Linked DNA regions of Homo sapiens. The protein of the gene in region 4 purifies or fractionates together with the protein of the main gene of each other region. This does not show direct contact. Each region holds a gene or a part of one and is shown on either strand. Other genes may lie near its edges. The genes, in order: PALM2AKAP2, VAPA, GPR161, PRKAR1A, ANKRD26, G6PD and ARFGEF1.

Region 1 (3,500 bases), on a different chromosome or scaffold from region 4:
GTAGCAGGGAGGTGTGTGACCCTTATGCATGCTGGGTAAGGCCTGCCTTGGCACTCCCAGACACAGCAATGACCCTGCATGGGCCCAAAGTGTCACCTATCCAGTGGGCAGCTTCACAGACTCAGCCAAGTTGAACCCTTCCTCAGCACCAATATACCACGCAAATGATTTTTTAGGCCTTAACATGGAATTTTAGAAGCAGGGTGTCATCTGCATCTCTGAGATATAAGATAACAGATGAATGACCAGGATCTTAAATTCTCCAGTTCTCTGACAGCTGCATACCAATAACACAAGTCCACAAGGAACATGGATGGGGATGGTCCCCACATGAATCACAGTGCCTGTTTCTACAGGGCTTGGGTTTGAGTCTCTAACCCCTCTGAGGGATCCTTGGGAAGCTGGACTGGATAGTATGTAAATCATTGCAAGGACTTTTTGCCCATGCTGTGCAGGTCGGCCTAAAAGGCCTGGACCAAAAGCAGGGTGGTGGCCTCCTTGGCCACTGGCCCCACACTCCAAGCCTGGTACTCAAGGCTGTAATGCTCCCAGGCAAGAAAAGGCATGGAGAGGCGAATCCAACGAAAAGCCAATGAGCACTTCTCTGTAAGCCCACGGCACAGCCAGCCTAGGCCAACAGCGTATACCCAGGTCTATGCAGGACTGAGAATAGAATCAGATGAAAGCCATAAACTCACTAGCTGACCCCTTGGTGAGAATTTCAAGAATGAAAGAGGCCGAAAGTGAAATCCTAACAAGGGCATATTCCATAGAGACACATCCAAGCTCACTCCTCTCCTCCCAGCCAGAAGATTTTAGTCCAGCAGGATCTTAGTTGCAGTTTCAGCCCGTATCAAAGCACCCTTCCAAGGCTGGATGTACCACTAACACAAGTGATACGGTTTTGCTGTGTCCCCACCCAAATCTCATCTTGAATTCCCACGTGTTGTGGGAGGGACATGGTAGGAGGTAATTGAATCACGGGGACATGTCTTTCCCATGCTGTTCTTGTGATAGTGAATCAGTCTCACGAGATCTGATGGTTTTATAAAGGGGAGTTTCCCTGCACAAGCTCTCATTTCCAGTCTGTTGCCATGTGAGATGTGCCTTTCACCTTCTGCCATGATTGTGAGGCCTCCCCAGCCACGTGGAACTATAAGTCCATTAAACCTCTTTTTCCTTATAAATTACCCAGTCTCGGGTATGTCTTTATCAGCACGGTGAAAACGGACTAATACAAGAATTGGGAGTCAGGAGAGGCTGGGATTTACTACAACTCTTCCACCTCTATCTGTGTAAGCTTGGATAGCTCTGAATACTCACCTGTAAAGCGTATAAGATTTGCTCTACACACCTCAGGAAGAAGGTAGCATATACAAGGTTTTCATAAATTATAAAGTACTGCACAAATGCAAAGATCATTTTTATTACTTCACAGAGTGGGTTCTAATTAAATGACAAAATTCCCTAAAGAACAGCATAGGTTAGATTAGCATTTCCTATTTCCGCACATATATAAACATACTCATGCTGGTCCCTGGTGTAGCCTGAGCCTTGTCCACGTGGCTCTTAGGAGTTTCACCCAAGACAATTTATATAACATTTACTTATTTTCACTCATGCCCAAAGAAAACTATCTTCCTCTCCAATGTGCAGACATAACAGCACCCTCCCACAAGGTTAGTTTCCACTGAGACACAACAGCTTCTTCCCCATGGGAATGTTACTCGTTCCATTAAATTTTATGTTGGGTATTTCTATGCACTGAATCCAGGCTTGAAAGACTCTCAAAAGGAGGTAGGCCTCCTGGCTTGTCTCAAGCTTTCCCATTGCAATGGAATCAGTCTGTGGCTCACACTCAGGCTGCTGAGACCACCTGCACAGTGTGCTCATGGGAAAAGTGCGAGACGCTGCCGCCATCTTGGGTGGCAGCTCAGGGCAGCAGTCAAAGCAAAGGCTCCAATGGCCTGCTGCGGGCAGCATTCAAATCCTGGCTTTGATACTATCAGTTTAATGTTAGACCAGTTCTAGAACCTCCTCACCTATAAAATATGAGTAATACTGTAGTGCCTACCTCATAAGCTTCTTATTAGGATTCAATGAGATAATACATGCTGAAAAGCATTTCAGTGTTCACTCTGAGTTTGTGTCTTTAGCTACTGACTTAACTTCTTCATGCTTTTGCCTTTCCCTTTCTCACACTAAATGTCCTGAATAAATAATAATCAAATAACGAATAAACAAATGCCTCCTGGTAATTGGGAAGGTTATGATGTTATTTTATATTTTATTTTACCCAATTTTCAGGACTTACTCTAATGTCTTCTTTTTGGGGAATTGTTTCACAACTCTGAGATTGGTTTACATGTTCCTCCTGGATGCTCATTTTCATAGTACTCCTGGATAGTAACTGCTTATGTGCTTTTCTATTTCTTCCATTAGACTATAAATAACGTTAGGTGAAAAACAAAAAGTATTTCACACCGTGCCTTTCTGAATGAACAATATTCAATAAATGGCAATTGTTGTTATTAGTCCCTGGGATTACCATTCTCACTCATGCTGTTTCAGAGGCTTTTTACCATGTTCTAAATGTAAAGTTTGGGGAGTATCCCTACAGAAGAAAGGAGCATGTGAGTGTAGAGATCATTGTCAAAGATGGACTTGCTCTTCTTTTGGCAGAAATTAGGATAAGAGTCATCTTTTCTCATTGATTAGTTCCTGGATCCAAATGGAAGATTCCATTAAAGCACTGTAGTTTCTAAGTATTTAATTCAGTTTTGTTGGTGGGGGCGGATATTCCACAGATGTTCATGTGACAAGCATCTTAGGTATCAGGACATCTGTCCTTCAAGAAATTATGTGCAAAAGGTGAAATAAAGGTTTCAGCCTCAGGCAGCTGAAACCTGGGGACACCAACTTTTCAGTGTTGCCAATACCTTCCCAGAGGAGGCAATCTGTAAATACCTACTGAACAAATGGATGAATGAATCCTCAAGTCATATCTCTGCCTCTGTCTAAAGCAGTTAGAGAAAGTGATGCTGGGCAGGGCCCTGACTTTCAGTCAGTTGAAGGAAGGGATTAAAAAAGAGCTGTTCAGACCAAGTATAGTGGCTCATGTCTCTAAACTCAGTGCTTTGGGAGGCAGAGGTGGGAGGATCACATGAGGTCAGGAGTTCCAGACCAGCCTGGGCAACATGGCGAAACCCCATCTCTACAAAAAATTTAAAAATTAGCTGGGCATGGTGGCACATGCCTGTAATCCCAGCTACTGGGGAGGCTGAGGTGGGAGGATGGTTTCAGGATGCAGCGAGCTGTCATGGCAGCACTCCAGCCTGGGTGACAGAGTGAGACTCTGTCTAAAAAAAAAAAAAAGTCATTAATACACATTCCACTTCAGAGATGTTGCTTCTGACCCCCCACAGGACAAGACAGCAATACAGACAAAAGCTAAGGGCTCTGCTCAACACCATCCAATGACAGCTACCTGCCAGGTGCTT
Region 2 (3,500 bases), on a different chromosome or scaffold from region 4:
TCTAGTACAAGTGAATTTTTATTCTTAAACATAGGTGTGTTGGCTCTTTTTTTAAAAGATGCGCTCTACCTGAAAAGGAAATTGGATTTTAGAACTGGATGTGGTGCAGTGAAGTATTTTAGGCCCAGGTCTGTGTACACATTTTATAGAAGAATGAAGTACTCTGAAGTATTTTGGTTGCCTTTTCATTTCAACTGTGTTTTGAATTTGTCAGATCACACATATATTGTGTTATTGGGCGCTGTGGTATCTTTTATAAAACCTCTTGCTTGTGTGCAAAAGTTCCTAAAAGGAAACACAAGTAATGCCTATCCATTACTAGCATGCTATGCTGCATGCTTTACTGCCATTGCTGTATGCTTTACTGTCTTTGTAAAAATCCCCCTCTCCCCTTTTCTGGTAACTGGAAAAGCATGCTAAAAATAGTCTTATATTTTCACCCCATAAATGCAGAATCAGTAATTCCTTGGCTTAAAGCTCTTATATAATCAATATTATTGGTGGTAAATACCAAGTTTGGTATCTCATAGCTATCTTTTTTTAAAGAAATTAAGTTCTTGAAAATTTAGCCAAATCCCGTTTTATGGGAATGCTCTTTAGAATTCATTTTGTTCAGCCCCTTTGTTCTATGGTTGAGAAATCTGAGGCCTTACGAAGGTTAAGAGAACTTTCCCCGTGTCTCACAGGTAGGTAGAGGCAGAGCTGGAACTAGATATCTGGTCTGTTGACTCTAGCTCAGTGTCTTCTGGTAACTGTTGAAAATTGTCTTAGTTTGAGAGATGGCTGAAATAATGAACATAAAATGCTATTTATAATAACAAGTATATGTGAAATTTCTTATTGTAAGACTACTACCGGCTTACTGTTGAATAGTTTGGTTATAGTGTTTAGGCTAGAAATGCCTCCCACATTGGTAATAAACATTACAAAATACAATGTATTTTTAGGTAGGCATTTTATAAAATGCATTATGCCATGGTTGCTTTTGAGATAGATTGTAGTCTGGGTAGCATCTTTAAAATGTATGTGGGCTTAACTGTTGTTCATATCAGGAGATGCTCTGATTGTATAGGTGAGACTCTGTTTCTGTTATTTTTAATTGCTGTATGAAATGTGATCAGATTATTTTACTACCAACAGTTATAGTTTGAAAGTCCAACTGTATTAATTGACTGATAATATGATAATATAGAGATTAAATTGTTTGTCTTCATTCCTTATATGTTTAGAAGTTTTTGCTTTGTCTGCCTGCTTACTTGTATATGTAAGCATGAGGGAAATACACTGTTGCTAATACTGAAATTACAATCAAGTAACTAAGGCCTTGAGTTCATATGTGACACTGAATGCACTAGCTTCCTTCGTTCTATAACTAATGTACCTTAACTTCCCCCATTCTTATATTTACAAGAAGCTAAGTCATTATGTTCTGAGTGTGTGGTATGTTCCCTTAAAAAAAAATGACACTTGGAAGAAAAATGTATGAAATTCAGAAATTCCGATCAAAGAAAAGTAATTCTTTCTTTTTTTTTTTGAGACAGAGTCTTGCTTTGTTGCCCAGGCTGGAGGGCAGTGGTGTGATCTCACCTCACTGCAGCTTCCGCCTCCTGGGTTCAAGTGATTCTCATGGCTCAGCCGCCTGAGTAGCTGGGATTACAGGTGTGAGCCAACAAGCCCGGCTAATTTTTGTATTTTTAGTAGAGACAAGGTTTCACCATGTTGGTCAGGCTGGGCTCAAACTCCTGAATCCGCCTGCCTCGGCCTCCCAAAGTGCTGGGATTACAGGTGTGAGCTGCCGCACCCAGCCAAGAAAAATAATACTCTTAAATACTTAGATGTTCACCTAAAGTTGATATTATTTGGTATGGGAATTACTTTTGAACTGTAATCTTTCAGATTACACCACTTTGAAAACAAGTTTTAACAGTAGGGTAAAAATATAGTTTTTGAGGGTATTCCCAACTTGTGATCTTCTACCACTTTAGAGACATTCAAGTAATAGTTTTCTTAGAGCTTTGCACATTCCTATTCACTGAGATTTTAAAAATTTCACCTTTATTCGAGGGAAGGATCAATGCTTATTACCATTTGGAAAAACGAAGATCAGAAGGTAAATGATCTTTATTTTCTAGCTTTAAAGGGAAATTAAACCATTCATGAATAAACTTTAAAAATGTGAAGTGTCCTTTTCCTTTTCACAATACAAAAAAAATTTCAACAGATTGTGTGGTTTGTGCATTTATATCCTGTTAAGCATTAATAGCTAATCACTGGGACTTGAATTCTGATGGCAGATAGTCTCTTGCTTAGTGAGATGGAGTTAACTATTTTTTAGTAGGAAGTGAGAACAGCTGATTTTCATGCCACGTTTCATAGCCCCACTTTTGGTAGACTACCACCACGCTTCTTCGCGTAAGCAGTGGCATCTTGGGAATGAATGCCCAGCCGCTCGTGGGTTGGTGCAAAGAAGTATAAACATATATCACTAAGGAAAAAGAAAGTTTGTCTTGCCCTTCTGACACAGTGTGTGCACTTCAGGCAATTTTTGGAAAATATAAAAAATTCCAAATTCTGCCTTTCAGCAGCATCAATTGCTAGGAACATTTCATTCATTTCCCTGTAATATTAATGTTCTTTAAGCATAATCACTAATTATAAGTTGTATCCTATTTTTTTCCAGCTTAATTTCTGTGGTTTATTGAAAACCAAGTATAAATGTGACTAAAAGCATTTTGCTTTGTTTTTATAGTTAACTTTCTTAAGGTTATGGACATTTTATAATGTAACATTTGATTGGCCTGGCCTCTTGACAATTCCCTTCTAGTTATGCATATCCTCCTGTTGCCACATTTCTTGTTTTAAAACTCAGTTTCTTGTTTTCCAGTTGTTGCTATGTATAACACCCATCTTGAAAGAGAGTATATAGGAAGTTATTCAGATAACTTTTGTAGTAGTGATATTCAACTATAGCAGTACCTTAACTCATGATGAGCTTAGGAACATAAAAGATAATTGTTGCTTGAATAGCACCCCCAGAGATACTGACCTAATTGGTCTGGGGTGGAGATCTGGCATGGTAGTTTTTTTCAAGCTCCAATCATCGGCCAGACAGTTGCTTTATGTAGGTTTTTAAATGCCAAAGGCAGATATGAAGTAGATTTAATTAAGACTTGACTTCAGCAATACAGGGGAACTTAAAATACTTATTTTTCTTTAAACTGCAGGAGTCACTGTTAGGTATTGCTTAAAAAAAATTGCATAAAAGCTTTGCTTGTCAAGTTAGGATTGCTGGAATACCACTAAAGATTTTTGACTTGTGAATAAATGAGCTGTCATCGCAAAAAGGCGATTTGAGAAATGTGGGCTTCAGTATTAATTGCCATTTTGCTGACACCCAGTGTACCTACCTACCTGAGAAATTTATTTTGTCCATCATGTATTTCTCAAAGCAAAAGGTGGTTTTCAAGTATAATGTCGTTTTCAACATGCTTATTACTTAG
Region 3 (3,500 bases), on a different chromosome or scaffold from region 4:
CCTTGGAATCTTTACCAAACCCAGGTCTGAATTCCCTGTGACTGTGTGTGTGTCTCTTAATCTCTCTGAGACTCAATTTCTCCTAAGACAAAAAAGAGAGTAGATATACTCTACTTTATACAACTGCCAAGAGGAATCTACGAGGTAATGAGGGTAAAAGTACGAGCAAAAAGGTTGTCAGAAGATAAACTCAAGGAATGTTTACAAAAATTACTTAAGACATGAAAAGAAAACTCAATTCTTTTTTTCCCTTTCAAATTTTAATTCAAGCTGGCCGGGCACAGTGGCTCACACCTGTAATCCCAGCACTTTGGGAGGCTGAGGCAGGTGGATTGCCTAAGGTCAGGAGATCAAGACTAGCCTGACCAACATGGTGAAACCCTGTCTCTATTAAAAATACAAAAATTAGCCAGGCATGATGGTGGGCACCTGTAATCCCAGCTACTCTGGAGGCTGAGGCAGGAGAATACTTGAACCCAGGAGGTGGGCATTGCAGTGAGCCAAGATGGCGCCACTGCACTCCAGATTCGGTGATGCAGTGAGACTCCATCTCATTAAAAAAAAAAAAATTTAGTTAAAGACAGAGAGGTTTCATTCAACTACTGTATTAGTCTGTTTTTATGCTGCTGATAAAAACATACCCAAGATTGGGAAGAAAAAGGTTTATGGACTTACAGTTCCACATGGCTGGGAGGCAAGGAGGAGCAAGTCACATCTTACATGGATGGCAGCAGGCAAAAATTCCCATTTTTAAAACCATCAGATCTCATGAGACTCATGCACTATGAGAACAGCACAAGAAAGACCCACCCGCTCCCATAATTCAATCACCTCCCACTGGGTTCCTCCCATGACACATGGGAATTGTGGGAGTTACAATTCAAGATGAGATTTGGCTGGGAACACAGCCAGAGCATATCAACTACTTGTTGATGCGGAAGAGATGAAATGGAAGACAGAAAAGATGCATTGCAAGAGAATGCAAAGTGGAAGTGTCTTTGACTCCATAAGGGGCTCAGGGCCTGAAGATTTAAAGCCCCACTATAGGAAGATGCCCCCTCCCAGAACTGAGCTGCTGCAGCTACCACACAGATGCTCAGGCTGAGGGTTGTGGGCACCCAGGTAAGCAGCTGACTGAGAAATATGAAATTTTAATTTACCTCCACCTGTAACTGTGGGGCTGATATTCCATGCTTCCTTTGGCTCAAAACCCCTTCCCTGAAATTGCATATATTTTCTTTTTAAGCAGAAGAGCTGAAATGATATCAGTGAAAAGAATGAGGTTAGCTGGGGAGGGTCTGAAAATATCCAAGCAGTAGACACTGGATAATAATCAAACCCACTCCCTACCTCACTATCCTACATCACTGATTCTCAATCCCCATTCTCCAGATCCCGCACCTCTGGAAATGCCTGGAGACATTTTTGGTTGTCACACCTGGGGGATGCTATTGGCACCTAAGGCTGGGGATGTTGCTAAACATTTTACAATACACAAGATAGCCCCCAACAACAGAGAATTATCCGGTCAAAAACGTCAGTAGTGCCGAGGTTGAGAAAACCTGCTCTACACAAACAATTTGGGTTCATTCTTCTCATTCTGTTTTTTACTGTATGTACTTAATAAACAGATCAAGAAAAATAAAACAAGCCCTTCCATAACATACACATGCTCTGAGAAGACAAGAGATGGAAGCTGTGCTGAGAACAAGACTGAGATGATTACTTCTATCACAAGATAAAAAATAATGACTACGTGAATTAGTTTTTACCCTTAATTATTTTTTATTTATTATCCTCATCAAGCCAGGCAAACTAAGCCCATATTCCTAAAACTATATTATTTTTAAATAGCTGAAAGGAGTACATTTTTTTCTGATGGCCATATGTGAGATGGATGCCTCAGGCACAGGGCTGTCCCCTCCCTCCCTCACCATGATAGCCATACTGCCACTGGTTTCTGGACACTCCTATATTCTTGTTTTCCCATTCCTCACTGAGCTACACAAAATACATTTATTGAAGAGCTGCTCTGTGCCCAGCTCAACTCTACAGCTGGGGCATAGCCCTGAACAAGACATGTTCAAATCTCTCCTATCCTGAAGCTTACATTTTGGAGGTGGGGATACAGACAGTAAACAAATAAATTTAAAAAATAGGAAACAATTCTGGGTAGTAGGTACTGTAAAGAAAGATCAAACAGGGTAAGCAGAGAGGGAATGGGTGTCTGGGTCAGGGGTGGGTCATCAGGGAAGGCTCTCCAAGGACATGACATTTGAGCAGAGACCAGAAAATGATGCGAGGGAACCTCAGGCAGGCCAGAGAAGAGCCCTTGCAAAGCCCTGAGGCTGAAATGAGCTCGGCGTGTTTAAGGATTAGCAAGAAAGCTGGAGAGGAGTGAAGAAGAGAACAGCAGACTTTGGAGACAGTCGGGGGCCAGATTACAAAAAGCATTGCAGGCCTGGAGAAAGAGTGTGGACTGGATTCTACATGTGAGAGGAAGCCACTGGAGAGACATGACTGACTTACACTTTCAAGAGGTCACTGTGCCTGCTGCTGGGTGAAGGGGGGACTGCAAGGGGCAAGTGTGGAGGCAGGGACCCCAGTTAGGAGGCCACGGCTATGGCCCAAGTAGAGACAAAGGCTTGGACCAGGGTCATGGTAACAGAAGTGTTAAGAAATGTTTAGATTCACTAATCTCCTTAAAGACGCCAACATTTTGGAGCTAAAAGAGGCCTTCAGAGTAATTCATTCTAGTCTATCATTTTACAGATGACAAAATGAAAGCCCAAGGGGCTGAAATGAGTTACCCATAGTCATAGACCTAATTACTGACAAAGCACAAATTTCCTGACTGCCATCACTATACCTCTGCCCTTACCTGGCCAACCCAGGGCTGGGGTGGGCAATGCAGAAGACAGGTAGGCACAGGAACCCTCTAGAGGGTAGTCCTAGCCAAAGTCAAAATAAATGACTCTCTTTGCTTTGGGCAAGGTCACCCTAACATCCTAGCCAAACCCAATGGGCCCTTATTGAGCTCTCTGCAGCATCTGACACTTCTGACTCCTTTCATTTTTTTGAGACTCCCTCTTCCCTTGTCTTCCCTGAGCTCCTCTCTCCTGTCTCTCCGTCCTTTAGTTCCTTACCAGTCTTGCTTACCTGCTAATCATCCTACCCTGTAAGCGCTGCAGTTTTCCAAGATGCCCTCTGGGGCACTATTTCTTCCTTTCTCATCTACAGAGGAAATTAACTGTCGGCCTCCTCGATATCTCTTACCCTTGTCCAGCAGTTGCTCCTCTGGAGACCCACCCTTTTCACACACCACATCCATGTGGCTTCATGGATGTGGACACATGACCTATGCCTCGCCAATCAGCATCTTCGAACTTCCTTTGATGTAACAACAGTGTTGCTGAAACAGCTGGGAGAAGGACAGTTCCCCTTTCACATTGGATTTGAACCTGCAGCTTTCCCCCTTGCCAGAGCTGCTGGGGATCACC
Region 4 (3,500 bases):
TTGAGAGTGTGATTTAGAATTCTCATCTACGTAACTAATGTTTGAATATTACCAAATTAAAAAGAGAATATTTCTTTTAATGAGCAAATATTTCTTTCTTTTAATAAGCGAATATTTTTCTTTTAATGAGCAAATACTTTGCATTAAGCCCAGCTTAGCATTATTCATTATGCCATTTTAGGCAGTGATATTTTAGAACAAAACCTTGGGAAACAAGATCTGGTATATATGTGCTGGTCATCTCATGTTTGGAAATCTATCCATTTGCTGGTAGGCACATCTTAATTTACCTAGTTATACCCATTACAGCATGATAGGTGCTGCTTTTAAGTGCTTAAAGTTATTTGGGGCCATTCAGAAATAATCAGCTTCCCTAACCTGTGAAAGTGGGTTATCAGTAATGTATATGTATGTCATGTCCCCTCTCGTTAAAGGAATAAACAAAATACTAAAACCATTGGAACTTTCTGGTGATAGTCAGATTTTTTGAGAACGTTGTGATAAATTTATAGGATAGCTTTGGATGTTTAAGTCTCAGCCAATGCATTGGTCATTTTTAATGGTTTTCTTAAATTTGTGCAGTGTCCATCTGACCATTTGAAAATGTACAGCCTGATGTACTTTGAAATTTTTCTGCATTTGGGATATATAGATAGATTAGATTAGATAGATAGTCTTGTCCTTCGCAGCAACATAGATAGAGCTGGAGGCCATTTTTCTAAGCAAAATAACACAGGAACAGAAAACCAAACCACATGTTCTCACTTACAGTTGGGAGCTAAGCAATGAGAACACGTGGATACTAGAAGGGGAACAACAAACACTGGGGCCTACTTGAGGGTGGAGGGTGGGAAGAGGGAGAGGATCAGGAAAAATACCTGTGGTGTACTTTACTTATTACCTGGGCAACAAAATTACCTGAACACCAAACCCCTGTGACACCCAGTTTACCTATATAACCTGCACATGTACCCCTGAACCTTAAACCCACACACACAAAAAAACGCTTATGGCAAAGATAAGTCTAAATTTTAGAAAGATTGGTTTTGAAGTGATGTGACAGTCTACTGGAGAAGAAACTGACCATACAGTTAGTTCTGCATTTCCTCTACAGGAATACTATTAGTAAAAGGAAACATAGAATGTTTACAGCTTTATCTCATTGTCAAAGAAGGAAGAGGTAGGACCTGGAACTATTGGTTTGAAATAAAATATTTTACTTTCTCATAGTGGGCCTGAAAGGAAATTAGGGCCTCACAATGCTTTGGCTTTGTGGACAGGAATTAGGAACTGTAGATATGGGGTGAAATATCTATATAGCTGGGTAGGGGAGGATATGGTCCTTTTTTTATAGAATAAAGACATGTCAATTGTATAGGTGAGAAGCCAGAACTAATGGAGGAATCTGCATTTAAATACCAGCGTTGAACAGGAAGAACACTAGGATTATTGGGTTGTAAATGACCTAGATTACTTTTGTGAGAAAATATTTTCAGAGATAAATTGGGTTGGCAGTGGCACAAAATCAGTTTGAGAGTAAACATGGAAATTGGACATTGGTTTAAAGTGTGTGGAAAAATATCTTGAGTGATAGGCTCAGGTATAAACCGGTATTTCGACTGTATTTGGAAGTTGGGAAATGCTTTGTGAAATATGTCAACATACTGGTTGCAAATGCTAGGAATTGGGCATAATATTGGCGGAAAATAAAAATCACAAGAATGTCATATCATTCATTACCTGTAAAATAAAAATGAATTAGTTAAAATTAAACTTTCCTCATTAAAAGCAACAAGCTTTGACTTTCTGGTTTTAAAATTTATTTGAAACTTAATATTTATTATTCCATAGCATTATGTGGTGATAATTACACGTCTTGGGGATATCACTTTTGTTATTTTTATTTTTAGGGAAGCACACTGAGAAAGCGGAAGATGTATGAGGAATTCCTTAGTAAAGTCTCTATTTTAGGTGAGTTGTAAAGTGTGTTAACTTTGCTAGTATGTGAGATACCCCTGAATTAGAATTGGATGGACTTGGGAAAAGCCTTCTGAAAGTATAATTGCTACTCATTCCCCCTGAAAAGACAGAAGGGCTGAAAGTCCTTCTGACTGTGGACATTCACAGTTATTTCCTCTGTGACTTCCCGTCTCTCTTGTTCCATCATTGAGTTGATTGGTTCAGAAAAGTGAGTACTTCCAACAATACATTTCCTCTGTGGAAAGATTAGGTATCATTTGCTGGCATCCTCTGAAAACATGCCAGAAGTTTGTTGAAATTTAGAGTAAAGCAGATTAATTGAAGATATTCTTTTGTGCATTTTGTTATGTGGACTTGGAGATGTTAGAACTTGTTCTTCATGAAAGGGGAATGGGGATTTTTATAAGGTAACAGGCTTCTGCCATTGTTTATTACAGTGAATTTTTCACCTCTTCTTTGTCTTTTCTTTGAATTGGTTACATATGCTTTGTGTTTTGGATAGTAGTTTGGCCTTTGGGAATAAAAGTTATTTTCTAGTTCTTTTTCATAAAGTAAACCAAGAATTTAAATAGATTAAATTATTTCTATGAAACTTTGGAACGATATGGATGGGGAAACTATGACTTTTGAGTATTGTAGTTGTAGGTTTGATTTGCATTGATGGCAATCTTCAGGAATACTTAAGGATTACATTTTCTTATTCCCTTGCCATTTGGTACAGTTGGTATAAATTAACCTAGCCACTGGGCTACCGAAGTAAGGATCTAAGGGCTATCTGCAGGCAGTATGAGAATCCTGCTCAGACTAGAGGTAATTGAAGACAGGTACCACTTTTAATCTGAGACACTACTAGAATGTTGAATGGGCATGGCTATTTGGTTGAATCTCTTTATACTTTCTTTTTACCTTTATAACAGCACCAAATAATACAGAGCAGTTATTTTGATTCTTGTCTTTCAGAGTCTCTGGACAAGTGGGAACGTCTTACGGTAGCTGATGCATTGGAACCAGTGCAGTTTGAAGATGGGCAGAAGATTGTGGTGCAGGGAGAACCAGGGGATGAGTTCTTCATTATTTTAGAGGTAAAGAACTCAGAATTTAATACTTGAATTTTAGAGGTAAAGAACTCAGAATTTAATACTTTAAAAAGTTGTACGCTCTAAGAGGGAAAGAGTGGGCTAATTCTGAACTATAGCTTTAGTTTTTAAGAATACCTGACCATTTTATTTTAAAATTATCTTTTACTTTGAAATGCTGTTGTTTGGTTTTCTGCCAGGTCACTATATTTTTAAATGAGTTTGAGTCAGAATTCTTGAAGGGCCCTAGACATGAAAAGCCAAATTCTAAAAACCATTTAACATAACAAACTGTGATGATTCTGCACTATTCTTGTTAAAATGCAAGTGTTTGGGCTATTTGGCAAATAAGGATTAAAGGTAATTATTTAAATTTGAAAAATTACTGTGTTTGTATATCTCCACATTCCATGGAAATGTATAGCAGATACTCTTGCTAAGCGG
Region 5 (3,500 bases), on a different chromosome or scaffold from region 4:
GCTGGTCTCGAACTCTTGGCTTCAAGTGATCCTCCTGCTTAGGTCTCCCAAAGTGCTGAGATTACAGGCATGAGCCACCAAACCTGGCTGATAAATATTTTAAACTTCAGCTTTTTTTTCACATATTTAAAATTACTCTCTGAATCACTAACTCAAAAGTAAAGGAAAAAAATACACAATAATTACCCAGGTTTTATATAAATTAAATTTTATTAAGGGATAATTTACAAATAATTAAACACAACCATTTTAACAGTTTGACCCAAGTATATACTTGCTTAACCACCCTCTCAACAGAGAACATTTCCAGAAAGTTCTCTCTTGCCCTTTTGCAGTTAATTCCCCCTACTTCATCCCAGGAAACCACTGGGACTTTAACACAACTTGTGTTGTTTTTGCCTTAAAAAAAAAAAAACAAAGCTGGGCACGGTGGCTCATGCCTGTAATCCCAGCACTTTGGGAAGCCGAGGTGGACGGATCACGAGGTCAGGAGTTCCAGACCAGCCTGGCCAACATAGTGAAAACCCATATCTACTAAAAAATTTAAAAAAATAATCAGCCAGGCGTGGTGGCACATGCCTGTAGTCCCAGTTACTCGGGAGACTGAGGCAGGAGAACTGCTTGAATCTGGGAGGCGGAGGTTGCAGTGAGGCAAGATGGTGAGAGCTAGACTCCGTCTCAAATACAAAACAAAACAAACAAATTAGGCTGGGCATGGTAGCTCACACCTGTAATCCTAGCACTTTGAGGGCTGAGGCGGGAGGACCACTTGAGCCCAGGAGTTCAAGACCAACCTAGGCAACAAAGTGAGACCCCATCTCTACAAAAATTTAAAAAAGTAATTAGCCAGGCATGGTGGTGCATGGCTGTAGTCCCAGGTACTTGGGAGGCTGAGGTGAGAGGATCATGTAAGCCCAGGAGTTTTCAAGGCTGCGGTGAGCTATGATTGTGCCACTGAACTGAAGCATGGGCGACAGACTGAGACCCTGTCTCTAAAATAAACAAAGCCAAAGGAATGTCTTTCCTCTCTTACCCACATGGGTATATGAGTGTGTGAGTGTGTGTGTGTCTGAGTGAGTGATAAAAATCTACTTAATAACATGAGTTTGTGTGTCTATGAGTGATTAAAACTCAATAATTTAACAAATTTGTTTTAGTTGGGATAAAGAGCGATTGAGAACTGCGTGGGACCCCTGTGCTTATGAGAGAGGATGGAGGGTGCAAACTGGTGGAAAGGATGTGAAAATTAACAGAGAAATTTCAACTGGGCCACTTGAAAATATGTAGCCGTTGTGAGAGTAGAAAGTCTTCACTCCTCATTCTCAGCTCTTTCCCTTCCCTCAGGCTAGTGAGAGATAGGAGTCTTGGAACACAATCTACAAGGCCAAGGTGGTAACAATCCATGATAACACAGATTTCTTCACATGGTATTTATGATAGTCTTACAAAGCTCTGCATGTTAGCTCTTAGAGACATGGAATGAGAATAGGAAGAAATCTTAGTGATAAGCCAGTGTAGTTTCCCATTTTACAGATGAAGAGACCTAGGGAAAGGTTAAACAGCAGGGCCCAAGCCATAGAGCTAGTCAGGCTCAGGATCACACTCCACATTCCTTTACTTGTAGTCCAGGTGATTCCATAACCTTATGCTCCAGCAGGTAGAATTACTGTAAGAGATCCAACACCTTGGGCTTTTTTCTCAGCATGTATTGATGCGCACAGCATTTATCCCTAAGAAGCTCTAAGTTCCTGTATCTTACATACAGATGATTGCTTTAATTTACTTTGCCAGGTGTATTCATAAAATGGAATATCACATCAAAATTTTTAAGCATATTCAAGTCTTCCCCATGAATATATTTTAACACAAAAATAATTTTTATAAGATTTTTCATTCGAAAATATCTCCACATTTGTAGTCATTTTCTTTCTTAGGTTTTCCTTATGTTACCAATTATAATTTTTTATTTTCTATATGACATTTCCCCCCATCGTTAGACATCTGGGTTGCCAGTCAGCCTTTATTGTTTTGATTACTTCATCAAGGATGAAAATGCTTCTCTAGTAGAAACTCACTTTCATTTCTTTGGAAGTATTTGGATTCCCTTTTCAATTAGAACCCTGGGATGTCCTCTTATCTCTTTGACCAATGCCTGCTGGCACAGAGATCTTTCTCTTTTTGGAGTTTGGGTTAAAAACAAAACAGCCCTTAGACACCGAGTAGGTGACCATGGTCTTACTCAGGTTATATATTTTTAAAACATATGCTTTTAATTTGTTTTAGGCACAAGCAGCATCTCAAGAAAACTTAGAGCAGTTTAGAGAGAATAATTTTGCTTCAATGAAAAGTCAGATGGAACTCAGAATTAAAGATCTGGAATCTGAACTCTCCAAAATAAAAACTTCTCAAGAAGACTTTAATAAAACCGAACTGGAAAAATATAAGCAACTCTATCTAGAAGAATTAAAAGTTAGAAAATCTTTGTCAAGTAAACTAACCAAGTAAGTCAAAATATAGAATCATAGGAAATAAATTAAGCTCATTAATTTGCCTTGAAAGCATAATTCTTAGGTTCATGAGATTAATGGGAAGTGAAAGCTAAATAGGTAATATAATTTTGGAAAATGTTAGTAAATTAACTTACCTTTAAAATGTGAGTCCAGGACAGTTTATGTCTTTCCTCTGTTTTTTTTTTTTTAATTTTATATGGCTTTTCCGTTAATATTCTTAGGTAGTTAACTGGATCTATGTCTTTCAGCTATGTGCTTTTAAAACTTTGTAATTTAGACATTGATATTGTCATCAGATTGCTTATCAGCATTGCCATAAATATAATTATTAATGAGTTGGGCTGTTTTTTGGAAAATTACAACTTAAACCAGAAGGGTCAAGTATCACTACTACTCTGCACATTCTGGCACTCCATAAATGAACTTTCCTTGATTGTGATATCTGGTATTATCACTACAGGGTGCCATGAGACAAACTACCCTGTATAGTTTTTCTACTACTTAAAGGCATGCTAGTGAAATAGGGAATGATTAACGTAGGGATGAAGGGAAGTATATTTTATAAAGTGGTTAAAAATAACACCTTGGTCAGCCTGAGGGAGTGTGTGGAAAACAGGTCAGGCCCCACCTCTGATGCCTTGGGGACAATGTTAGGAGCTAACTGCCTTTGAGACTCTTTAGTTCTTTTTGATCACCAACTCAGCTATCTTCTTTTCCCCTACAATTTTTTGCTCTGAATTATTCCTTGGGGCCAGATGCCTAATATTTTTCCAGATAATGGGTGAAATAAATGTAAAAGGGTGGTGAAAGCAAATGCTTGCACATGTCTTGAGGAATTTTTTAATCTCTAAACTGGTTTACTAAATACAAGTATTTTTAGCTGGGCTTTTTCCTTTGTTATTAGTTTTATTAATTGTATGTATCAAAACATGATGTTTTTGATATATTTGTACATGGTGAAATGGTTATTATAGTCAAGCAAATTAACAT
Region 6 (3,500 bases), on a different chromosome or scaffold from region 4:
TGGCACCCATCTGTAATCCCAGCTACTTGGGAGGCTGAGGCAGGAAAATCGCTTGAACCCAGGAGGTGGAGGTTGCAGTGAGCTGAGATGGCACCATTGCACTCCATCCTGGGTGACGGAGTGAGTGAGACTCCATCTCAAAAAAATAAAAATAAAAAGAGCCATACCTGCATCAGCCACAAACCTTAACAGCCAGGACTCTGACCGTTAAACCCTTAGTCCAAGAAGCAGACTGGAGGAGAAGGTAACTGAGGTTGCTTTCTCCATCCCCACCCCATGCTGTCACAAGGCACTGCAACAGAGCAACCCAGGCCACAATGATAGCTTATGACTCCTGGCCTTCAGCTCTTATTAGACACCTCATTGAGAGCATCCAAGCTTGCTGTGTGAGTTGGAGCAAGTGTCTTCCTTTTCCTGAACCTCAGCATTTCGTGTAGCAAATGACAGCTTTTGAAACGAGGGCCCAGGGTCCTTAGGCTTTTCCAAGCTGATTTTGTCATTTCACTGCCTCCGCCTGTGGCCAGCTTCGGGTTGGGCAACTTTGTTTTGTTGAAATCAGTAGGGTTCCCCTTTGCTCTCCTCTGTTCTGAGAGTGACAACCTGAGGCTTTCAAAGCAGAAATAGGAAGTGCCAGCTCCAGCACTGTGGGTAGGGGACAAGGGGTCCTCTCTCTGAAGAGCCTCGTGGTTTGTTTTTTCCTCTTCCTGCTGTGGGGGAGATGGGAGGTGGCGTGCTCAGGCAGCACCTGGAACAGCTCCGGCTCCCAGGCTTCTTCCACGCCTGATGCCTCACTCGGTGCGGGAGGTAGGCAGGGTGGCACTTGAGGGCACGTGATCCTAGAATCTGCTGTTCCAGGAAAGCAGCCCATTCTCCGTTCATTGAGCAGACAGCGATTGGGTACTTCTGGGCCACAGCAGCCAGTCCCTGCCCTCCTCATGGGACCTATGTGCTATTGCGGCCAGGGAACCACGGCAAGTAAGCAGACCAGCAAGAGTTCAGGCTGACGTGTGTTTCAGAAGATACACATGGGCCCTGTGTCCCCAGTCCCCCAAAGCGCATAGATCCCACAAAGAGGGCCGGGAGAGCACAAACACAGAAGGAAGAGCAAATGCCCGGAGCCCCGAGTTGGGAACAAGCTCAGCATGACCTAGAAACTGAAAGCAGGCAAGTGGCTGGCAGACCCACAGCCTGGGCAAGCAGGACACCCTGGGGCAGGCTGGACCCACGTGGCCTTCCTCTGTCCCTTCCTCCTCCCTGGCCAGCTTACCTCACACTTGCCCACACACCCAGCTTCCTTCCTGGGGGCCCTGATGGCACCTCAGAGTTACCAAGTGGGCCACTTCCTGCCTTCTCAGGACTCCCACCCCTACCAGAAAGGGAGCCGAGGTACTTACTGCCCCCTTCCAGAAAGCTCTGGCCTTGTAGACTAGTGTGCGCCTGGAACAGCATCTTTCCCCACCTGATGGGACCTCGATGATGCTGGAGAGCTTCACAGGGAGTGAGGGGAAGAGACTGGGATTGATAGTCTGCGGGGTCCTCACTTCTCTGGGCCTTAGTTTCCCCACCTGGATCACAAGGGCCATGGGCTTGATGGGCGTTCAGGACGCATCCCAATGATGGGCCTGTGGGAGGGATGACCCAGCGGCCCCCGCCTCCCCTTTCCTCAGAACATTTCTGGGCTGACTTCCCCATTGGTCTGATAAGATTCTTGCTGTGTCATGATGATGTTGGCACTCCCCCAAAGCCCCGGTGACTCATGAGCCCCCGGGTATAGCAGGGAGGCCCTTTTGTTGGTTTTTCAGCTGAACTAACTCAGCAGCCCCCAGGTTCTCTGGCCCCAGTGGCCAGGAACCAGCTGGGCCCCTGCCAAGGCCCAGGGCTCCACCCAGGGAGTCTGGGCAGGTCCTTAACCCCAGTGACCCTTGGGGATGGGATGGCCCACCCCCGCTGGCCCTCCAGCAGGCATCGTGCTCTACCATGAAACCCTCATGCCAAGACAAGGGCTGCAGCGATTTCGGTTTATAAAACAGACAGGTCATGGCCCAGGTCCCTTTGCCCTGGCCTAGCCAGATGTTGGTGGCTAGAGATCTTCATCATGCCCTGCTTCTACTAAGTCACCTTGTGTCCTTGGGCAGATCCCTCCCCTGCTGTGGTCCTCAGGAAAGAGGAGGGCGTGGGGAAGATGAGAAGCTCCCAACTGCTTTTCACTAAGGACCCCTTGAATTGCCCCCACCCACATGGCACGAGTAGACTCTTGACCAAGCTGTCAGGTTTCCCGATGTCTTCCCATGTTTGTTCCTCCAGAAAGTCCCACTAGAGCATCGCAGCCAGCTGGGAGGGCAGGGCTACCCCTGAGTCCTGAGGAGAGCAGCTCAGTCCGGCTCAGCTCAGCTTAGCTCCCTGTCACCATGGGAGAGAGCGGCCTGCCTTACCCCACCCCTACTGTCCGTCTTACCTCACCTCGCCTCTCAGGTGACTTGGAGCCCAGCAGACGGTCGGTCGGTTGCAGGGCCTGAGCTGAAACAAGGTGAGCCGGTTCAATCTCTAGTTAATCCCAAAGGGAGCAGCAGGAACAAACGGCCTGGAGCGTGGGGTTGCTGTGACTCAGCAGACCAGTCCCCTGCCACCAGTACCTTTCTGGAGTCTGTCCCGATGCCTCCCAGTCTTCCGGAATTTGGTCATGAGCAAACATGACCTGCTTTGAGTGAGGCTTAGAGGTATTTGCAGGCTGTGGTTCTTTCCGTTTATTTCAGGGTCCAGTTAGTTCCCAGTAAGCTGACCCTTTCTGTGTGGGGCCAGCCGTGAGTTGATGTGACATGGGCAACGTTCCCCTCCCCAGCCCCACTGATGGCAGGTGCTGTGAGGAGCTGAGTAGAGGAGCTCCTACCCCAGGGCGAGGGGTTGTCTGCTGGACTTTGAAGGGTGCAGCAGTGAGAGGTCCGTGTCGCTGTAGTCCTGGCACCGAGCTCACCTGAGGAGCATCAGAAGTGGAGCAGGGCCCCTGAAGAGCGCAAGCACACAAGGCACCCACACCATAGCAGTTGCCCTCCTGGAAGCCCTGTGGTGGCTTCCTAACTGCCTGGCTCTGGGTGAGGGCGTTTGACCTGGTGGCATGGCCCCCATTCTGTAATGGTTTGTAGAAATGGACCCATCCATGGTTGCAGTGCCTGATTGCTTCGAAGAGCATGTGTTTTTTTTTTTTTTTTTTCGTGACATGGAGTCTTGCTGTCACCCAGGCTGGAGTTTGGTGGCGCAATCTTGGCTCACTGCAACCTCCGTCTCCTGGATTCAAGTGATTCTCCTGCCTTAGCCTCCTGAGTAGCTGGGATTCCAGGTGCCTGCCACCACATCCAGCTAATTTTTGTTTTTTCTTTTTTTTGAGATGGAGTCTTGCTCTTTCACCAGGCTGGAGTACAGTGGCGCAATCTTGGCTCACTGCAATCTCCACCTGCGAGGTTCAAGCAATTCCCCTGCCTCAGCCTCCCGAGTAGCTGGGACTA
Region 7 (3,500 bases), on a different chromosome or scaffold from region 4:
CCTAAGGAAAGTGGTTTGGCCAATTCTTGGGTAAACTGAGACTATTTGCAAGGTTATATTAAGTCACTTTTAGTGTAAATGAACTTTCTAATCAAATATACTTTACTGGTAAAAATACGTCAAATTTTTCATTTTAAGAACTTGCTTAATGCTAGACAATAATCAGGAAAGAATCTGTAGTGTGCCAATTATTAGTTTTACAAATTAATATTTTTCTTATTCTTAGAATCTCATATCTATCCGGGGTTTGTAAATCTGATAAAATTACAGCAGTATATACTTACCCTAATAATAATATTGAATGTAAACTGGTTCACATGGAGTAGAGGTGGAGGGGAGGGAGAAACATCCAGACTACACTTGTTACTAAACTAAATGATGAAAAATACTCATTTGAATACCCAATTTTTTGTTCCCTTAAAACATAAAAATAGCTAGTACCCCATGCCACATACTTTTCAATTGGAATAAGAACAGTAACTTATAAATTTTTTAAATTGTGTTTTATTTTCCCTAGAATATTCACAGGATCTACAAGGCTAGATGGAAATGCCATTGGTAAGTATGGGCATTTATTCTACTTCGGAACTGGCTTGGGGCTAAAATAACTTTAATGTTGAGCTAAAAAAAAAATGTATTTATATTACAGTGGATTTTGTCCGTTGGCTCTGTGCTGTGTCTATGGATGAATTACTTTCCACGACACACCCAAGAATGTTTAGTCTACAAAAAATAGTAGAAATATCATATTACAACATGGGAAGAATAAGATTACAGTGGTCTCGAATTTGGGAAGTTATTGGAGATCATTTTAATAAGGTATTTGAATAACTATGGTGTTTGTTTACATTTGTAGTATATTTTTTGTTTAGAATGTCCTTGTAATCAAATTGAGCCTTTTTCCCTTCCAAGCAATTATTTATTACTTTTTAATATTAAATTAGAAAACCCTGTGAATGGTGTTTTTCTTTTTAGAAATGATTGCTCTGGGCTTTAAGAATTTGATTTAAAATATCTGTTTTTCTTGTTGAGAAATAGTTTTAGCATACTTAATGCCTTTATGGAAAATCTTAGGATTTACCTATCTATGCTATTCTATACTTTTTCTAAAACAAAAAATAAAGAATTGTAGATTTTTACTGCTGATATTAATTAGCATCGTTTATTTCTGTCGCCATTACAGGTTGGGTGTAATCCTAATGAAGATGTAGCTATTTTTGCAGTAGACTCCTTGAGGCAGTTGTCAATGAAGTTCTTAGAGAAAGGGGAGCTTGCTAACTTCAGATTCCAGAAGGATTTCTTAAGACCTTTTGAACATATAATGAAACGGAACAGGTACTATATTTGTTGAATTGCTTAATAGAAGGAAAATCTTGTTGTTTTCCACAGCAGGGAGAAAAACAGAAGAAAGGGGGAAAAACTGATGAGTTTTATCGGTTTGCATATCCAAGCAATTATATTAATATTTTTAGGTCTCCAACAATTCGAGATATGGTTGTACGGTGTATAGCACAGATGGTTAATTCTCAAGCTGCTAACATTCGATCTGGATGGAAGAACATTTTCTCTGTATTTCATCTAGCTGCATCTGATCAAGATGAAAGCATAGTGGAACTTGCATTCCAAACAACCGGGCACATTGTCAGTGAGTATTCTCTTAGCTGTGTTCAAGTAAAAGGAAAAAAAAAAAGCAACCTTAACGTGTTCAGAAGATGATTCAAGTAACAATAAGATTATGGCCTTTAAGTTTACCAAGCTTTGTCTACAGAACCAGAGTAAATAAAAACAATTAAATTACTATTATAGTTAACATTTATTGAGTATTTACCATATGGCAAATACTGTGTGCACTTTTCACGTAATTTCTTTAATCTTCACAGTTAAACATTATTGTCCATCCCTTTTTTCAAAATAGATTAGGAAACTCAGCCCCAGAAAGGTTAAGCAGTCTATGTAAGGTCACAGAACTAGTGATGGAGATGGTCTTGAGACCCATGGAGTATTAAAGCAAAGCCTTTATTTTTGACCAGTAAGTACATTGCACAGCCTTCTTCAAGGAGGAGTCCCCTTAAGTTCAAGGGGGACTGACTGAAATACTAAGATTATAAGTTAAGCCTATATGGAAGATGACAATGATGACCATCAACATCAAGAATCATGGCATCATCATAGCTATCATTTATTGCGTGCTTGCTTAAGTATTACACTAAGCACTTCACTTATATTATTTTACGTAGTGCTTACAGCTATCTGTGTATATTATTATTATTTCCATTTTATATCAAGAAACCGAGATACAGAGAGGTTAAGTAATTTTGTATATTCATTCAACCAAAGTTGAATCAGTACCTACCGTGTACCAGTCACTGTATTAGGTGCTATGTTTATAATGTAAACAAAACAGACAAGTTTTACTATTCTCACCACTCAGGGCAGTCAGTTAAGTGGTAAAGATAGTCTTGAACTTCGTATCTGTTGGATGTCAGAACCTGTAACAACCTTTAAGAGGAAGTGCATTACATCTAGATGTTGGTGTATTTTTGGTACAGCTAAGAATAATTGAAAAATTATAGTAATATATATTTTTCTCTATTTTAGCCCTTGTATTTGAAAAACACTTTCCAGCGACCATTGATTCTTTCCAGGATGCAGTGAAGTGTTTGTCTGAATTTGCGTGCAATGCAGCTTTCCCAGACACAAGTATGGAAGCAATTCGACTTATTCGCCATTGTGCAAAATATGTGTCTGATAGACCTCAGGTATAGCGTCATTTAGTAAACAAAATTTTGCAGAGTATTCTTTCCAATTTGAAATCTTAAGTTTGTTTGGGAATTGAGGGTATATGAAGCATTTATTTTTCAGTAATTTGAAAAATAATCTGAGCAGCCTGATTCCAAGTTAGGATGGTTAGTGATTATAACTAACCATTATTGAAAGTGTCAGGTATTTTTCTGAGTGTTTTTCATTAACTTGTATTAACTTGTTTAATCTTCTAATGGCTTTATGGGGTAGATAGTGTTATAGCCCCATACAGACAAAGAAACTGAGGCACAGAGAAATTTTAAAATGTGCCCATAGTTTCAGGGCTAGTAAAGTAGAACTAGGGTTTGAGCCCCAGCCTGTGTTTCTAACCATTCCCTACAGTGCATCTTGTCTGTCTGTGCTGTGTAATACTGAAGCTGACTGACTATGGATGAGAATAGGCTTAAGCTCTAAAGTAAAAGGTTGAATTGAAAATCTAGCTGCCATATTTAACTTGTATATTTGAATCTATCTTTGTAACTGTCATAAGAGAAAGTGATGTATCGTAGATTTGGTAATAAGATTTTATTCCGTACTACCATGGACCGATCAGGTGCTTGGTACTTTTTAGATACGTCAACTCATTTCACCTTCATACTTCACCAGTGTGGTTAATGTGGCTGTCTGGTATCATAACCATTTAAGTGATAAAAATGGAAACCTGAATTAACCTGGCTAATAATGCAGAAAGCTGGTGA

Evidence for each region.
Region 1: the proteins of PRKAR1A (region 4) and PALM2AKAP2 purify together in Homo sapiens (affinity purification with mass spectrometry; 3 studies listed by BioGRID and IntAct, with this or other methods). This does not show direct contact.
Region 2: the proteins of PRKAR1A (region 4) and VAPA purify together in Homo sapiens (affinity purification with mass spectrometry; 3 studies listed by BioGRID and IntAct, with this or other methods). This does not show direct contact.
Region 3: the proteins of PRKAR1A (region 4) and GPR161 purify together in Homo sapiens (affinity purification with mass spectrometry; 3 studies listed by BioGRID and IntAct, with this or other methods). This does not show direct contact.
Region 5: the proteins of PRKAR1A (region 4) and ANKRD26 purify together in Homo sapiens (affinity purification with mass spectrometry; 3 studies listed by BioGRID and IntAct, with this or other methods). This does not show direct contact.
Region 6: the proteins of PRKAR1A (region 4) and G6PD purify together in Homo sapiens (affinity purification with mass spectrometry; one large-scale study listed by BioGRID and IntAct). This does not show direct contact.
Region 7: the proteins of PRKAR1A (region 4) and ARFGEF1 purify together in Homo sapiens (affinity purification with western blotting; 2 studies listed by BioGRID and IntAct, with this or other methods). This does not show direct contact.

What each region holds. Positions count from the first base shown.
Region 1 is NC_000009.12:109,783,198-109,786,697, reverse strand, and holds part of PALM2AKAP2 (PALM2-AKAP2 protein isoform 3 (PALM2-AKAP2)), read right to left. Parts: intron 1-3,500. UniProt on the Homo sapiens protein: Binds to regulatory subunit (RII) of protein kinase A. May be involved in establishing polarity in signaling systems or in integrating PKA-RII isoforms with downstream effectors to capture, amplify and focus diffuse, trans-cellular signals carried by cAMP.
Region 2 is NC_000018.10:9,955,516-9,959,015, forward strand, and holds part of VAPA (vesicle-associated membrane protein-associated protein A), read left to right. Parts: 3' UTR 1-3,500. UniProt on the Homo sapiens protein: Endoplasmic reticulum (ER)-anchored protein that mediates the formation of contact sites between the ER and endosomes via interaction with FFAT motif-containing proteins such as STARD3 or WDR44.
Region 3 is NC_000001.11:168,126,931-168,130,430, forward strand, and holds part of GPR161 (G-protein coupled receptor 161), read right to left. Parts: intron 1-3,500. UniProt on the Homo sapiens protein: Key negative regulator of Shh signaling, which promotes the processing of GLI3 into GLI3R during neural tube development.
Region 4 is NC_000017.11:68,525,930-68,529,429, forward strand, and holds part of PRKAR1A (cAMP-dependent protein kinase type I-alpha regulatory subunit), read left to right. Parts: intron 1-1,910; coding exon 1,911-1,971; intron 1,972-2,940; coding exon 2,941-3,062; intron 3,063-3,500. UniProt on the Homo sapiens protein: Regulatory subunit of the cAMP-dependent protein kinases involved in cAMP signaling in cells.
Region 5 is NC_000010.11:27,013,495-27,016,994, reverse strand, and holds part of ANKRD26 (ankyrin repeat domain-containing protein 26), read left to right. Parts: intron 1-2,283; coding exon 2,284-2,501; intron 2,502-3,500. UniProt on the Homo sapiens protein: Acts as a regulator of adipogenesis. Involved in the regulation of the feeding behavior.
Region 6 is NC_000023.11:154,540,347-154,543,846, reverse strand, and holds part of G6PD (glucose-6-phosphate 1-dehydrogenase), read left to right. Parts: intron 1-1,394; coding exon of another isoform or gene 1,395-1,583; exon of another isoform or gene 1,584-1,635; intron 1,636-2,455; exon of another isoform or gene 2,456-2,609; intron 2,610-3,500. Other genes in the region: IKBKG (NF-kappa-B essential modulator), read right to left, coding at 1,395-1,583. UniProt on the Homo sapiens protein: Catalyzes the rate-limiting step of the oxidative pentose-phosphate pathway, which represents a route for the dissimilation of carbohydrates besides glycolysis.
Region 7 is NC_000008.11:67,225,282-67,228,781, reverse strand, and holds part of ARFGEF1 (brefeldin A-inhibited guanine nucleotide-exchange protein 1), read left to right. Parts: intron 1-517; coding exon 518-558; intron 559-649; coding exon 650-819; intron 820-1,183; coding exon 1,184-1,335; intron 1,336-1,472; coding exon 1,473-1,645; intron 1,646-2,598; coding exon 2,599-2,759; intron 2,760-3,500. UniProt on the Homo sapiens protein: Promotes guanine-nucleotide exchange on ARF1 and ARF3. Promotes the activation of ARF1/ARF3 through replacement of GDP with GTP. Involved in vesicular trafficking.